Regions from separate parts of the Homo sapiens genome. Here region 2 is linked to region 1. Evidence: fine-mapped QTL for protein levels in blood plasma. A gene starts in region 1. The other region holds a variant in brackets. All regions are shown on one strand. Distances are from middle to middle. Region 1 holds the start of ADAMTS8 (ADAM metallopeptidase with thrombospondin type 1 motif 8). Region 2 overlaps ADAMTS8 (ADAM metallopeptidase with thrombospondin type 1 motif 8).

What was found. PIP is the posterior inclusion probability: the model's chance that the variant is causal. Protein levels are from antibody-based Olink assays in UK Biobank. Linkage for the fine-mapping came from a reference panel and not from the study's own genotypes, which makes the PIPs less certain.
Region 2: its variant is fine-mapped to the plasma level of the ADAMTS8 protein (UK Biobank, PIP above 0.99). The variant lies in the coding sequence of ADAMTS8. If it changes the protein, the assay may bind it differently, which can mimic a change of level.

What each region holds. Positions count from the first base shown.
Region 1 is chr11:130,427,471-130,430,370 of GRCh38, forward strand. ADAMTS8 (ADAM metallopeptidase with thrombospondin type 1 motif 8) reads right to left here and starts at 1,139. Exons shown (of 9, transcript NM_007037.6): 1 at 97-1,139. The coding sequence starts at 816.
Region 2 is chr11:130,404,388-130,407,287 of GRCh38, forward strand. ADAMTS8 (ADAM metallopeptidase with thrombospondin type 1 motif 8) reads right to left here. Exons shown (of 9, transcript NM_007037.6): 9 at 536-1,741. The coding sequence ends at 1,171. Among named protein-coding and RNA genes, the nearest start is that of ADAMTS8, 23 kb to the right of the region's middle. The variant T/C (reference allele first, on the strand shown) is at 1,467.

The sequences.
Region 1 (2,900 bases):
TTTTCTCAGAGGGATTGGAAGGGGAGATTTTAGAGACGCTGGGAGGCGTCTGGGGGGCCTCCGGGCACGGCGGCTGGAGGAGGCTCTCAGTCCTACCTGCAGGTCGGCCCCGTAGAAGGCAGCCATGGACGCATCGGCCACCAGCAGCGTCTCCACGAAGCGCGCCTCAGACACAAACCGCTTGGTCCTACTCGTGGCCCCCAGGGGCGGTGGCGGCTCGCTAGCGCCTTCTGCCTCCTCTTCTTGGCTCTCCTCCTCGCTGTCCTCCTGGTGGTCTCCTCTCTCCTGCCTCTGACCCTCTCCCGTCTCCACCTCCCACTCGGGTCCTCGCGGGAGGGGGCGGGCTCCGGCGGGACCCCAGCGCTGCAGGCGGTGCGGCTGAGCCAGGGAGCCCCCCGCGCCCTGCGGCTGGATGGTGAACTCCTCGCCGTCCAGCAGGAAGGAGCCGCTCAGCCCGCGGCACAGGCTGACCGCCGCCAGCGACTCGGGCTCCCCATTCACGGTGCCGGAGAAGAAGCAGCCGCGCAGCCCCCGCTCGCCCCCGGTCGCCCGGCCGGAGCCCCCGAGGCGCTCGATCTTGAACTCGGGCGCTAGGAAGCTGTCGTCGGGCGCCAGGCGCAGCACGAAGCCCTTGCCGAAGGCGGACAGGTGGAGCGCGAGCTCGCCCGCGCTGCCGGGCAACCGCGTGGGCACCACCAGCTCCGAGGCCTGCCCCCCGGCTGCGGGCCGGGCCGGGGCGCCGCGGGCCAGCGGCAGCAGCAGCAGCAGCAGCAGCAGGAGCGGAGGCCACCGGGGGGCGGCGGGGGCGGGGAGCATGGGGGCTGCGGCGGTGGCTGCGCGCAGGAGAGGGAAGAAGCCCGCCAGGCGCGGGCAGGTGCTGGCGGCCCGAGCGCGGCCCGGCCGCTCTCTCCAGGAAAAGCGGAATCAATCGGGTGCAAGGCCGACTCGGCCCGCGGGGCCCGGCGGCGGGAGCGCTCCCCCGGCGGCCCCTCTGGCTGGCGCAGCCCGCTCCTCCCGCGCCGCCGCCCCCGAGCCGAGCGCGAGCAGCTGGCCCCGGCCCGCGTGCGCCCGTCCTCCGCCCCTGCCCGCGCCAGCCCCGCGCAGCCGCCTCCTGCCTCCTCCCCACCCCGGGAAGCACCGAGTGGGCTGCCGAGCCCTTCTTATTTATACTTCCTTCCCGGCTTGACATAAGAGGTTTATTTTTGATCTCTCACTATTCCCGTTTCCCCTCCCCTGGGATCAGAGAGAGAAACTGAAAAGAGGGAGAGAGAGTGGAGAAAAAAAAATTGGGATGAAATGCAAAACCAATCAGGCAGCGAGACCCGTCCGCCACCCGCCCCCCTGAAGTGTCAACTACAACTTCTTTCCTTTCCCTCTACGCGTGGACCCACGTTAACCCCTACCATGCTGGACTGACCCTTTAGAAAGAGTCCCTGGGAGACCCCAACCGCTTTCTCCTCTGCGGCCAAGAGTCCAGGATGCATCTTCCGAAGAGGCTCGTGCACTGGTCTCAGCGACCCTGTTCGGATCCCTGCAGAGTCCGACTGCAGAGCCCGACACTGTTGGGATCCCTGCAGATGCCTCCGGAGATCCGACTGTGTGGGGAGAAGGTTCCTGAGCTTTTCATTGTAAAGCATAAAGGGAGAGGAGGAAAAGGTCATGCTAAAATCATGCCCTCCTCTCATCACTACTGCACAGCCTTCCTAACTTTCACTCCAAACTGAAGATGGGGAAAACAAAAACAAAACAAAAAACAACCCACCTGGTTAACCCTAAGAGGGACTCTCACTGTCCTGTTAGAGGGCAGGTGGGGCAGAGGCCAGCACAGTGGTAAGTTACCAGCACTGAGGTTGGAAGTTAGCATTTCCCCAAGAGGGAAACAGACCTCCAGTCCCTGAAAAAGGTCTTCTCTTCTGGATACTGCTAGTTGCCCGGGACTTCAAGTAAGGTGGCAGGCCCTTTCACTGCGTTGCCACAGCCCCAGGAACAAATGTGTATGAGGTGAATTTATTCTGTCCCATGTCACCACTGCCCCCTAGGGAAGGGGGTAGTATTCAGGAAGAGAGGGATGACATGGTCTCAAGACCACAAAACTGCATCCCATCCCAGTCTCAATGACACAGGTCTGGATTGGGTGGAGGGCCCTGTTCTCTACCTACAAACTCTAGACTCATCCACCAACTGTGCCTTTCTCTGAGTTGTCAATGTGGGTGATGCATTAGGAACCGCTGGGATCAGGGCCTTTAAATCCTTTGCCAATTCACCTGCCCCCAGGTACCCAGCTCTGTGCTTATGCTGGGGATGTTGACAGTCGAGGTCATCGCTGATTCTTTTCAGCCCATCTGACCCCTTCCTGCAGTGTGGTGGTTCAGCATGCATCTGAGACTCTCAGGGCTTGTTACCTCCAAAGAGGAGGCTCTTGCCCAGGGGAAAGTGCTGCCAAATTCCCTCTAAGTATCCCCCCTCTCTTTGCTTTCTCAGAAACACAGAGGGACAGCTGTGAATTAGATGAAAGGATGAACTTCCCAACCTAGCATGGTGCAGAACCTCCTTTCCTGCATAATTTATAGGATAGGAATAACGAGTCTAGAATGTTTTGGGGAAACACTTCTAGAGGAAGGACAATGGAAAGAATGGTCTCTTCAACCCTTTTCTCAAAACAAGCAAAACACTTCGTCCTAGCACAGTGTACAGTGCTTGGGACATCCTGTACAGTGCTTGGGACAGTCTGACCTGGGCAAGCAATGAATACAACTCTGTGTTGCCTCAGGGCTATTGTAACAGTTCAATGACTGGTTTTTACCTCCTTGAAGCCCCTTATTTGCTGTTTCCCAGAGTACAACTCCTGATTTTCTCTTTTTGAGACACAGTCTCACTTTGTCACCCAGGCTGGAGTGCAA
Region 2 (2,900 bases), 23 kb before region 1:
TCTTTCTTTCTTTTTTTTTTTTTTTGAGACAGGGTCTCACTGTGTCATCCAGGCTGGAGTGCAGTGGCATGAAAATGGCTCACTGCAGCCTCAACCTCCTGGGCTCAAGTGACCCTCCCACCTCAGCCTCCTGAGTAGCTGGGACTACAGGCCTGTACCACCATGACCGACTGATTTCGTTTTTTAATTTTTTATAGAAACAGGGTCTCGCCATATTGTCATGGCTGGTCTTGAACTCCTGGGCTCAGGCAATCCTCCTGCCTCAGCCTCCCAAAGTGCTGGAATGACAGGTGTGAGCCACTGTGCCCAGCCTCACAATCCATTTTCACAGCCCTCTACGTGATCCTAATGAAACCTTGGGAACCACTGGTCTAGATCCTGCAAATGAAAGTTGCCCGAATGAGCTGGATTCTGCAGGCCTGTGAGGACCCAGAGCAGGCAGGGATCCAGCTGCTGACCTAGTTTCAGCCTCCATCCCTGGGTTCTAGGTTGCTGCCCTTTCCAAAGAAACAATGAATCAGACCAGACCACTGCATTGGCATAAGATCACACTTTAGTTCAGAGACACATTTGCATAAATACTTGAAATGGATCCACCCCTGCAGGTGGCAGCCTGAGAACATGTGGCTCTCCAAACCCTGCGACGCTGCGGCCCTTTAGGTGATGGATTTTAACACTGAAGACAGTCGTGGTCATTCTTGAAGACAGCTTGGGGTCCAGCTTTGGAGCCTGCTTTGACATTCACCATTGACTCCCTGCCCCACGCCTCTCTTGTACTAATTTTTTCCCCTGTGAGGTAGATTATTTATCGGGGAAACCAGATAGAATTTTTTTTTTCATTTAAGTTTGCTAGTCCTTTGCAAACAGACTGACGCTGAGTGTCCTGTCTGAGTCAATAAGTGCACTTTTACCTTTTAACCTATGCCCTCTACTTGAACCCGAGCAAGGTCCAGTCCACTGGACAGTTGATGATAGGGTCTGCCGCCCCATACCCTCTCCTCTTCCCCCTTAGGAATTTGTGCAGTACTGGAGGGGTTGCGGCAATGGGAGGCCTGGGTGGGCCGTGCTGCCTTGATATGGCCAAGGGACCCAGTCACCACAGTGGAGACCCTTGTCTGCACCTCAGTACCGCATGTCCAGGAGCACAAGACTGGCCCCTGCCCCCCTGAATCACAGGGGGCACAGCTGGCTTTCGCAGGGCTTGGCATCCTCGGGTTTCAGAGCCTTGTTGCAGGTGGCAGAGGCCTGGCCGGAGGGGTCCCTGCACTCTACAGTTCGCCTCTGCCAGCCGGCCCCGCAGGTGCTAGAGCACTCAGACCAGTCCCCCAGCACCCACTGTGCGTGGAGCAGCGGCTGGATGATGTTGGTGGTTGCTCTCTCTTTGCTGCTCTGCATGCTAAAGTCCACGTCATTAGGAACAAAGAAGGTGTATTTGACTTTTGGGGGGAAGACCTCGCCAGGGACTG[T/C]CAGGAGCTGCACTGTCAGAGGCTCTGGCAAGGGCCGGAAGCTCTGCAGGCGCTCCAGGGTGGCGATGGAGCCGCTGTACTTCAGGATGGTCCCCTTCACCAAGATGTCCTGCTCTATGGCAGAGATGGCCAGGTTGCCGTTGAGCAGGTACTGCCCATCAGCCGTCTTCAGCGCCAGGTAGTTCCCATCGTTCTGCACACCCGGGTGGCTCCGCTGCTTCACGTCAATATTAGTGGCACCAGCTGGGATGGTGACAATGTCATTGTAGCCATAACTGTGATAGAAACAGAAGGACACCCTTAGACCAGTGGCTGCCCAGCCCAGGTCACGATGATGCCTTGGAGACTGAAGTGGGCACCCCAGGTGGCAGACACGAAAAAAACAAAGCAAGTAATTAAGCAAGTTGCCTCAAAGTTCTCAATAAATTAGCTGTTTAGGCAGACAGAAATGTCTGTACATTGGGATTTTCAAGGGTGTTTGCTTCATCTGGCAACTCTATTTCAAAAGTGTGGTTGAGGAGTTGAGGTATGTGGGTGTTGAGAACAGCATAGAGACGAGGAGAACCCAGAAGGATGTGGAAAGCTGCACTGGTGTAGCCAAACCTGGCACCTGTCAAATGTGATCTCAAATACCTCTAGCTCCTTGCACTGGTATACAACTTTGATTGGCCACCTCCATACCCAGAGCTCAAACCCACATGGAAAAAACTGTTCCACACACCCCTTCCAGAACGTGAACAGGAGGGAAATTTCACACCACCTCTCTGAGTCAGTCGGCTCCTAGTATTTGATGAATATGGCCCTAGGGTGGGATCAGGGTGGGGTTGGGAGTTGGGGGTTTAAGCCTGCTTCTTTGAAGCCACCTTCTGGGAGTGCCCAGGCACCATGAGCACTGTGCTTCTGGAATGATAGGAAGCAGTTTTGGGAAACTGTTTCCAGTCCATTATAGGCTTAGGGCTTTAGGTAGGATGAAGAAAGATTAGTTGTTTGTTCTTTTCTGGAAATCTGGGTTCCATAGGCTGGGGAGAAAGTGAGGCGAGTGGTCAGGCGGGCTTTTTGCTTTTCTTACCATATGTCCAGCTGGGGCTAGCTGCTTAGTTTCAGACTCTTAGAGTGTCCACAGGCCCATCTGTCTAAAGCCTGAGGGAAAGTGGCCAAGGGACCCAGTATCTGAATAGTGTCTGCTTCTCTTTTTCTATGTCTTTTGAGCTTAAATGTAAAAAGAGTTCCAAGGCAGGGCGCAGTGGCTCATACCCACAATCCCAGCACTTTGGGAGGCCAAGGCGGGCGGATCACTTGATGCCAGGAGTTCAAGACCAGCCTGGCCAACATGACGAAACCCAGTCTCTACTAAAAATACAAAAATTAGCTGGGTGTGGTGGTGCATGCCTGTAATCCCAGCTACCTGGGAAGCTGAGGCAGGAGAATTGCTTG